Regions from separate parts of the Homo sapiens genome. Here region 2 is linked to region 1. A link means that fine-mapping ties the variant in region 1 to the expression of a gene that starts in the linked region. Tissue or cell type: whole blood. Region 1 holds a variant in brackets; the other region holds the start of a gene. All regions are shown on one strand. Distances are from middle to middle.

Region 1 (5,617 bases):
AGCAAGCGGGAAGAAACATGCAGGATGAAGGTGCCAGGGAAGAGGTCTTGTCCCTGATTTCCCAGTGGCCAGTGTGGGGTGGAGGCCAAGGACCGGGCCTGCGGGAAGTCCAGTGGGTCCTCTGAGAGGGCATCACTGGGACTATTCATAGCCCAGGATCCTCACTGGAATCTGGCAGGCAGGGACAGGCACCAGCAGGAATGTTGCCTGTTTGTGGCACAAACGCAAGCTAAGTTGTTTACGCTGTTCTTCCTTCCACTGCCTCACTTAGCCTGAGACCAAATGCCAACCATCCTGGAGCCTGAATAGATGTCCAAGACCCAGAATATGGTCTGTGTGCTGCATATAATAAAATGAGAACTGGATTTGGAGTGAAGGATATAACCATGGGATTTGGCAAGACACTGAATAGGGTTGCTGTGTGTGGTTGTTAAGGTCATGCACTGAACAAATACACCTGGGTGATGAAGTGAATGGGGCTAAAATCTACCCTGTGCTCTGCTCACTAAGCCATTATTGCCCAGAGGGGCATAGTTTTCGAATATGCACAAAGGTGCCATATGACCCACCCATTTTCTCCTGCAGAGAGATGGTAAGGACATAGTAATATAACCTATGTTAAAGAACCTAATGGTTATTTGCAATGAATTACCATTATTTATACAAAGTCTTGTTCCACAAAGGTTTAAAGGCAGCTTATGAAATTATATATGGTTAAATAGAAAATATGATTAGATACAATATTATACATTGATTGAATGAGGGAAGGCAAAAATGAGGCATATGCACCAGTACTTCCCTTCGTGTGCCCATGGCAGACATCACTAATGGATAAATCCATCATGCACCTTGTTCACGTTCTGAAAGTCAGTTTTCACCCTGGCACAAAGGAAATGAGGAAATCGGTAAAGGGCTGTATCTTCATGCTGCACAGTAGGTCAATAAATGAAAATTATATTCTGGGGCCTGTGGCAAGGGGAAGGGGAGGTGACCTGGATCAGGAAGTCCCACACTGTCATGTGTCATAGTTTTAGCCTTGAGCTTCATCATGGGCAAAACAAAGATGTAAACACTCAGGCAAGCATGCACACACACAGACACAATCAGTGTCCAAAATATAAAATTATACCAATTTCTCAGACTTCATGCAAATTGCCTACACTGAATTCTCGGCGAATTTTTCCTGGGGTTCCTCATAATGGGGTCATGTGATGAATCAGAAAACACCCTCAACAGCAGCCCTAGAAGAAGCACATTGGCAGATTTTCATTGGTGACTCCTTATAGTGAAAACCCTGGGTAGAAAACTTAATCAGAGCCCAGTGAGAGCTCTGTAAACCCTTTCCCCCATGACACCCAGCTTGTGGGAAGGGAGCTGGAAGAAATAGAAGCCCAAAGCTCTACTAAGTCTCTGGTATTGGGGAGTAGGCCTTCAAATGGACCCCAAGCCCTTTTCTATGAATGAGGAAACCAAGACCCTGGGAGGTTAGGGAGGGGCTCCAGGTCCCCAGCTCCAAGCCCAGGAGTATTTCCCCTCTACTTCACCACGCCCCCTGGAGGGTGCTCACCCCTGAGCAGCACTTCCTGGTCCAGCTCAACCCACCAGCAGGGTTGACCCACCAGCCTCCAAACCCCACGGCCAGACCCCCAGGCAACACCAACTGAGGGCCCCCTCACTGGAGAGCAAGGCTGTGGGCTACATTGTCCCCAAGGAACCCCTCTGGGGGAGCACAATCTACAGGTGGTCCTGGGGCCCCCCAGGGGAGGTGGCATTTGAGTAGACCTTCAAGGACAGGCCCCTCCTGCCCCACAGCTTGGCAGAACAGACAGATCAGGCGGACCACAGTTCAAATCCCAGCCCTGCTGCTCCCGGGCTGTGTCCTTGGGAAAGTTATCTCACCACCTCTAAGCCTTAGCTTCCTCGTCTGTAAAGTCAGAACCGCTCCTAGGGCAGGCAAGAGGGCTGCGTGAGACCAAAAACTTCACTAACTGAGCAGTTTATTACTCACACTATTATCACGACCGACGATAACTCACTCACGGCGTAGACAGAGCACTGGCCAGGAGTTGGACAGATCTGAGTGTGGATCCTGGCTCTGATACAACTGGCTGAGTACCTTTCTAAGCCTCAGTTCCCCCATCTGTTAAATGGGAGGCAGGACTATTCCAAAGGTCAGTGGCCTGTGAGGGTGCAGTTCCAGTTTTGGCCCCTCAGATGCTGGAAGCACAAGGGAACCGGGACTTGGGCTAGAGGGAGGCAGGGCCCGAGAGGCCCTGAGGCCTGGAGCTCACCAGCAGCTCCCCTCTGGGGCCTGGGCCGGGGGAATGTGTAGGAGGGAGGTCCAGGGAGGGGGGCCCTGGAGCCAAGAGGAACAGCCCTGGCGGCGGGCAGCGGTGCGGTGACCCAGGAGGGAGGGAGAGCTTGGCTCCGAGCTCATCACTCAGCGAGCTGTCTCCCCCCGGGCCGGGAACCCCGGCGGCCTGTCCTCCCCACTTCCTGCGCGCTGGGTCAATATTGTGATTTCCACTGTGCAGCCCGCCTGGGACGGCCTGGCCCTGCGCGCCGCCCAGGGTCACGGGGCTGCGGGGAGACAGGGGTATGGAGAGGTCACCCGCTGCCTGGAAGATGACTCAGGACCTGTAGGCTGCAAGGCGGCGCGGCCAGGAGCCAGGAGCCCCAGTGCAGCCCCACCTCCAAATGCACAGAAATGGCGCCGGAACAAGGCCTGTGAACTCTCCCATCCAAACCGAGGGATCAACCAAGGCCCGGAGAGGGCGGGGACTTGCCCAAGGTCACACCGTGAGTCTGTAGCTGAAGGAGGCCCTGAATCCCATCTCCTGACCTCAGATCCTCACCAAACCTCCATATTCTACCTTCCCTGCCCAAGTACCTACCTTCCTCTTCATCAGCATCCGGAACGGACATCTTCCTACACCTCCGCGGGAGCACAAGGAGAGAGGACAGGCTGACCCTGACCAAGGAGGGCTGGTGTGGAGGCTTCTCCAGGAGTGAGGGGTGGTCAGGAGGACACAGTTCAGGACACCCACACACTGGGAGTTATGAGGATGGAGGATGCGAGGCACCAGCCCTGACGATCCGGAACCTGTGGCTTCATTTTTCCCAGTGAGTGCCTCTTGTCAAGGCTGAGTGCAGACTTAGCCTCCTCCCTGGAGCACCCACCGCACCCCTGCTCTCCTCCAGACCGCCTCCTCCATGCGGTGCTCTTCTTACACCACACACCTGCCTCCCCTAGTGAATCAGGAGCTCCTGGGGGAAGGGGCCCAGGCGATCTCACTTCCAGATCCCAGGCCCAGCCCAGGGTGAGGCCATCC[T/C]GGGCCCTGTTAGCACTGCTGAGTGAGGGAAGGGAGGAGTCCTGTCTTCCCACATCACTGTCAACGCCACAGGGGCAGAAACTCCTGCCCTCCCAGTGTCACCTCTCCTGGAGACTCTTTTTATTCTTCACTTGGTTACCTCCTGCTCTTCCTTTAGGTCTCTGCTTAACTGTCACCTCCTCCTGGAAACCCTTCCAGACCACTCTGCCAAAACTACATTAGCTGGCCCTGCTCTGAGTCCATTATACTTCCCTAAAAGTGCTCTTACCCCAGGGGAATATAATGGCTTCTTAAATGTTCTTCCCCTCTAGGCTGAACTAGGGCTGAAGTCCCTATCTCTGAGTGAGATGAGACTCACTATTGTGTTTCTAGCTCGGGGTCTGGTGCAGAGTCAGTGCTAGATGGATGGATGGATGAATGGATGGATGGATGGATGGATAGATGGGCCTGGTGCAGAATCAGTGCTGGATGGATGGATGGATGGATGGATGCATGCATGCATGCATGGATGAATGGATGGATGGATAGATGGGTGGGTGGATGGATGGATGGATGGATGGATGGATGGATGGATAGATATATGGATGGATGGATGGATAGATGGGTGAGTGGGTGGATGGCTGGCTGGCTGGCTGGATGGATGGATGGATGGATGGATGGTTGGATGGATGGATTCCTCCCAGAGCCAGGCCCATAGTAGGGATTCAGGAGATGCTGGCAGATGGAGATGATGGTTGTGATGATAGTGGTATCTGGGGTGGATATCTCTTGCTCTTTTCTGCCCAGCATCCCTCTTACCCCAACCTTAATTTACTATCAGCCACCTGGTCCCCTGTGGGAAACTGTTCTTCCTTCCTTACATAAGTCTGTCAATTACTGAACCCCAATGCCTCATCCACATGACCCAGACTTGGTCAATGATTGTCCCCCACTTCCTTGGCTGCAGTGATTGCCCCGCAGGCACATGGCCCAAACAAGGTCAGTCAGTTCTTCCTTGGAACTGACATATGGATCTTAGAAGAAAACAGCTCTCTGGTTTTAGACTGGGGTTCCCAAGCTGGGCTGATGGTAGCCAAGTTCTCCACCTCACAGAAGGGAGAGAATGAGGCCAGCCCCACAGGGAAGCAGAGACAGCAAGGGTGAATGACAGACAGAGATAATCCTGTTGGCCCTGAGCTGTGATTCCAGCCCCCTAGCCCTACTCCTCAGGGCAATTCCCCAGGCCAGCAAGTCCCCTTTTTTGCTCAAGATGATGTGATGTGGCTTCTCTCAGCTGCAATGGGAAGGATTCTGAATAACAGTAAACCAAAGAGAAAACAGTGAGAGGAGCAGGGTGAGTCCAAGTGGAGACACAGATGTTGAGCAGCAATTGACCAGCAGACTCAAGGAGATGAAGGAATCTCCTGCTAAGGGCATGGCCAGAGACTCTCCAGCCCCACTGTGGGCAGAGCCAAAGGACAAAGGCTGTGGGGCAGAAGGAAGGACCTAGGGTGGGGTTGGAGCACCTTTGCTGCAAATGACTGAAACCTCACTGAAACTGGCAGGAAGGGGAGTTTATCAGTTCACATATCTAAAATGTCCATGGTTTTTAGCTTCAGGCATGGCTGGATCCAAGTACTCAACTGCAGTTGTCAGGAGCTGTCTCTCTCCAGGCCTCCAACCTGTTTTCCTCTGTGTTGGATCCACTCTCAGGTAGGCTTTCTCCAAATGATGGCAACTTTAGGCTTCCATCCTAACAGCAAACCCAACTGAAAGGACACCTCCTTCTCCGTTGTTGCAGCGAAATCCCAGAACTTAATCTGATTTGCCTTGATTTGATCACTTACTCACCCCCAAACAAACCCTGAGACAAGACGAGAGGAATGTGGTGCTCTCATTGGCCAGGCTTGGGCCACAGGTGCACTCAAGGTAAACCCCACCCAACTCACAACTTGAGAGTGGGGAGGGGGCCTCTCTAAGGGTGCTGCCATCAGAAGCAGGAGCATGGGCTGGGCAGGCAGGATTAAAGTTGGCTACAATCCGTGGGAAGAGGTCTTTGGCTGGAAGTTGCTCCCCACAGGAATGAAGGCCCGAGGGAGAGGAAAGGAGCTCTTTGGGGAAAAGATAACATTCCCTTTGGCTGGGATGGTCTTCGGGGGAGGGCGGAAGTGCCCCTGAAGGCAAAAGGATGGATGAGAGGAGCTCTCGGTTACTCCCAGCTCTGGAAGTCTCTAGTTTGCAGCTGTGACGCCAATGGTCTGAAGCCAGACACATTCCTGGACTTAGCCAAAAAAGGCCGAGATGAG
Region 2 (5,000 bases), 260 kb after region 1:
TGCCACCAGGCCCAGCTAATTTTTTTTTGTATTTTTAGTAGAAATGAGGTTTCACCATGTTAGCCAGGATGGTCTCGATCTCCTGACCTCATGATCCACCGCCCTTGCCTCGGCCTCCCAAAGTGCTGGGATTACAGGTGTGAGCCACCGTGCCCGGCCCATTGTTTTCTTTAATACTCTCTTCCCTCAAAGAACTAATCCCTTCCAGACATATAATACATAGCAGGAGAGCTGACATTTAAAATCCTTCCCACCTCAGAGAATCTCTCAAATCTGTTTCCTGAGCAACAATTGACAGAAGCCAACAATCACTAACGCTGACTAGCTGCCGTGCACCCAGCACCTAGTCATCCCTTCTCTAAAGGTTCCCTGACCCATTTCTTAGGAGACTTTAATTGATTCTAGACCCAGCACCTTGGATATTCTTGGGAGTACACCAATTCTTCTCACATTATCTTGGTTTTTGCTCAGTTAATAAGGTGTGCTCATCCCCCAAAGTAAGCTGTTACTAACCTAGGGTGGTGAATAGGGAAAAGCAGAATCACTTAGGGTGAGTTGGACTAAAATATTTCGTCCAAGAAAGGTTGGGTGAAACACTGTGGGAAAGCAAAATCTTGGGAACAACCTAAGTGACCATCAACAGGGAAATGACTGAAGTACCGTCAACCACTCAGTGGTGCCGCCACGTAAAAAATGAAGCAGGCTTATGAGTACTGGTAAGAAAGCTGTCCATATCACAACATGACTAAGGTCCCGATCGATGTGTAGTATGACCCCCGATCTGAGGAAATTAAAAATACATAAATACAGATACAAATAAATAAAACCTGATATATCCAAATAATAGATAGAAAGTTATCAAAGAAATTAATTGTATTTACTTCTGAAGGGCAGAAACAGTAGAAGGGGGAAACACTTTTCATTTTACATCTTTCTGCATTGTTTTCTAACTACACACATGTATTACTTTTATAACAACTCAAGAGGAAGAAAACTTCTCAGGCTTTCCCCTCCTGCCCAAAAACCTTTCTGAGTGAAAACCCCTAACCCACTTAGGAAAACACCCTTTTATTACTTCTTCTAGCTCCCAGCACCCAACGTCTTTACAACCCAGGTTTCTAGGAACAGACTGTCAGTGGGCCTTTTTCTTTCCTTTTTTTTTTTTTTGAGACAAGTCTCACTCTGTCGCTCAGGCTGGAGTGCAGTAGTGTGATCTCGGTTCACTGCAACCTTTCCTCCTTCTGGGTTCAAGCAATTCTCTGCCTCAGCCTCCCGAGTAACTGGGATTACAGGTGCCCACCACCATACCTGGCTAATTTTTATGTTTTTAGTAGAGATGGGGTTTCACCATGTTGACCAGGCTGGTCTCGAACTCCTGACTTCGGGTGATCCACCCGCTTCGGCCTCCCAAAGTGCTGGGATTACAGATGTGAGCCACCACGCCCAGCAGTCAGTGGGCCAATTCTTAAGGCTGGCTCTCAAAGATGAACCAGCACCACAATTTACCCGGCTTATAAATCCTGTCAGCTTCAGAAGACGACTTACCAAACACAAATTTATCCTCACCAGTTAATAACTCCTTTTCTTTGCTCAAAAACCCAGTGAGAAAAAATAACTCCAGGCCAGGCACAGTGGCTCATGCCTATACTTCTAGCACTTTGGAAGGCCGAGGCGGGTGGATCACCTGAGATCAGGAGTTCAAGACCAGGCTGGCCAACATGGTGAAACCGTCTCTATTAAAAATGCAAAACATTAGCCAGGCGTGGTGATGTGCGACTGTAATCCCAGTTACTCGAGTGGCTGAGGCAGGAGAATCGCTTGAACCCATGTGGCAGAGAAGGTTGCAGTGAGGCGACAACGCGGCACTGCAACTCCGGCCTGGGCGACAGAGCGAGACTCCGTCTCAAAAAAAAAAAAAAGAAAAAATAACTCCAGTGCACTGCGCCCTTACTTCCTATCTAACATTGTGCCGAACGTTATACACAGATCCTCCTCCGTATGATCCTTAGTTCAGGATCATAAACTCTTGATAAATTACTGCCCCAGGAACCTCCAGTGACATCAACCGCTGCTACCATTTGTGGAATTCTGCCGGCCAGACACCCCACACTGCATTCCCTCACAACTGATCCTCCCGATAGCCCATGGGGTAGGCACTGTTATTTCCATTCACAGATAAGCAAAGTGAGGCTCGGAGGGCGGGGACTTGCCCAAAGCCACAAGGATGAAAGGTAGTGCGATGACTCAACCGATAAAAATAATCCCGGTTGTGGTGGGGGGGAGCTGAGCCCGACTCCTCCCACTATGCTGCCGCGGCTCCGAAGGCCTAGCCCGAGTGCGGAAATGGGCTTCTAGGGTCCCAGGACGAGGTCCACCTCCAGAGCTGCAGTGAGGTCCAAGTCAGCCCGAGGAGCCCGCAGGTCCCACATTTCAGTCATTTCCCTACCCCAAAGGCAGGGACTCCCCGCTCCTGGGGCAGGCAGCCACTGTGGCCGCGAGCAAGCGTACTCGGGTTAGGAAGGAGAAGGAAGGGGACAGGGGGAACGTTCACCTACGCAGCTGCCACCTCGGAGGACGGGGGAGCGGGGGACGAGGAAAGATCAGGATAAGACCCTAACTCCCACAAATGACTCCAGGAAAGGGAGACCACCACTCCCCGAGCTTTGGAGCGCCGCGCGGGAACCGGAAGTCATGCCCCGCCCGGAAGTTAAGAGGAGGGGCATAGGTTGGAAGGGGTGGGCCGGGTCTCTCTAGCCTCCGCGGTACTACGCAGCTTCATGGTTTTAACTCTTGGTGGTCTTTTGACCGTCCTCAGTCCTTACCGTGCGGAGTTTTGGATACATTCTTAGCAGCTTTTTCGCTCCGGAGAAGTTCTTTATCTTTCTGAGCCGCAGTTTGCCCAACTGCAAAATGGAAAGAGATGAAGCAGGAATTAAGATACTCTAGGAGCTCGCCCACAGCTGATTCAGGGCCCCATTCTGAGGTTACACCCTTAAGCCTTTGCACCACTCAAAGGAAGGAAACCAAGAGAGAGGGGTGGCTGGCTGCTGTTTGGAGACAGTGGTCCTTGTATTGGCGCCCCGCGGAATCACTCCAGATGAGTCAGTGGATACAGTCTATAGGTCCCGCCTCATTGTACGCAAACAGCAGTGGGCATATGGCCGTGGGGGGTTGATACAGCCTGTCCGGGGTGGGACTCTGTGTGTATGGGAGGCTAAATCTCAGCAGGACTTTTCCAGTTGCTACCAGACTACGCACTGTCGCCTGATGGTTAAGAACTGAAGCTTTAGCCGTGCGCGGTGGCTCACGCCTGTAATCCCAGCACTTTAGGAGGCAGAGGCGTGTGGATCACCTGAGGTCACGAGTTCGAGACCAGCTTGACCAACAAGGTGAAACTCAGTCTTTACTAAAAATACAAAAATTAGCCGGGCGTGCTGGCAGGCGCCTATAGTCCCAGCTGCTCGGGAGACTGAGACAGGAGAATTGCTTGAACCCGGGAGGCGGAGGTTGCAGTGAGCCGAGATTGCGCCATTGCACTCCAGCCCGGACGAGGGAGCAAGACTCCATCTCAAAGATGAAGCTTTGAAGTCATACTGATCTGGTTTGCGTCTGATCACACAGGTTCAATGACACAGCCGGCTAGAGGAAGCAGAGATGCTAACCACTGCAGCCCCGATCTTAACCCTGAAGGGGAGGGATTGAGCTGTTAGAGAGAGGTACTCAGTTGACTTCTCCCTCTCTCTTTCCAGCTGGCATATCCGAATGGGCTGAGCTACCGGATTAAGAGGGACACCCCAAAGCCCCCATTGCTGGGTTATTGCTCCAGAGCCAATGTTCTTGGGGAAAGGAAGATATGCCCTTTGTCAACATTGCCACTGCTGGTCTGTAAACTCCTAGACGGCCAGCTGGTGGTTCACAAACCAGGACTCCTTGCTCTGGCCCTACCCCTACCTACCAGAATGACCGTGAACCCTTCCCCACTCACTCCTACAACCAGGTTTCCATCTCCTCTCTCAGCTTAGGTTTCCCTAACTGTAAAATAAAAGGGTTGGACTAGGTTAAGGACTTCCTGCTATTTCTCTCTCCCACACTCTAAGGTTCCTTAGGAATGCTTCAGAAAACAGCAGGGGTTGGGGCAAGGATGCCGCTTGAGTCCCAGAGCAACTCCAATTTCATAGGCACATAAATTTATGTGAAAGTATATACGTTTCGGCTTGTGTAAGATTATTTTATCATCCCAGGTAAAATTCAGCCTTTGTGCTTCATCTTTCCCCACCCTCCTGCTCACTCAGTTTGCTCCAAGAACACTGACCTTCTGGCTATTTTGCAAATCTGACAATCTGACAAGCTCATCTTCACTTCTTTTTTTTTTTTTTTTTTTTTTTTGAGACGGAGTTTCGCTCTTGTTGTCTAAGCTGGAGTGCAATGGTGTGATCTCGACTCACTGCAACCTCTGCCTCCCGGATTCAAGCGATTCTCCTGCCTCAGCCTCCCGAGTAACTGGGATTACAGGCACGAGCCACCACACCCGGCTAATTTTTTGTACTTTTAGTAGAGACGGGGTTTCGCCATATTGGCCAGGCTGGTCTCGAACTCCTGACCTCAGGTGATCCGCCCACCTCAGCCTCCCAAAGTGCTGGGATTACAGGTGTGAGCCACCACGCCCAGCCTTTTTTTGAGGCAGAGTCTCATTCTGTCACCCAGGCTGGAATGCAGTGGCATGATCTCAGCTCACTGCAACTTCCACCTCCTGGGTTGAAGTGATTCTCTTGCCTTAGCCTCCCAAGTAGTTCAGATTACAGACTTGCACCACCCTGTCCAGCTAATTTTTGTATTTTTAGTAGAGACAGGGTTTTGCCATGTTCCCCAGGCTGGTCTCGAACTCCTGACCTCAAGCGATCCACCCACCTCGGCTTCCCAAAGTGCTGGGATTACAGGCGTGAGCCATCGCACCCGGCCTCATCTTCACTTCTTTTGCTGATCTCTGCTTGCAGTGCTCT

What was found. PIP is the estimated chance that this variant, and not a neighbour inherited with it, causes the effect.
Region 2: LINC00339 starts here. The variant in region 1 is fine-mapped to the expression of LINC00339 in whole blood (INTERVAL, PIP 0.94).

Annotation. Positions count from the first base shown.
Region 1 is chr1:22,282,690-22,288,306 of GRCh38, reverse strand. No RefSeq gene overlaps it. Among named protein-coding and RNA genes, the nearest start is that of MIR4418, 19 kb to the right of the region's middle. RefSeq lists an enhancer at 1,162-1,661. The variant T/C (reference allele first, on the strand shown) is at 3,333.
Region 2 is chr1:22,023,195-22,028,194 of GRCh38, reverse strand. LINC00339 (long intergenic non-protein coding RNA 339) reads right to left here and starts at 3,004. Exons shown (of 2, transcript NR_023918.2): 1 at 2,823-3,004. LINC01635 (long intergenic non-protein coding RNA 1635) reads left to right here and starts at 2,147. Exons shown (of 3, transcript NR_110692.1): 1 at 2,147-2,231; 2 at 3,229-3,389; 3 at 3,750-4,201. RefSeq lists enhancers at 2,025-2,319, 2,397-2,506, 2,118-2,719.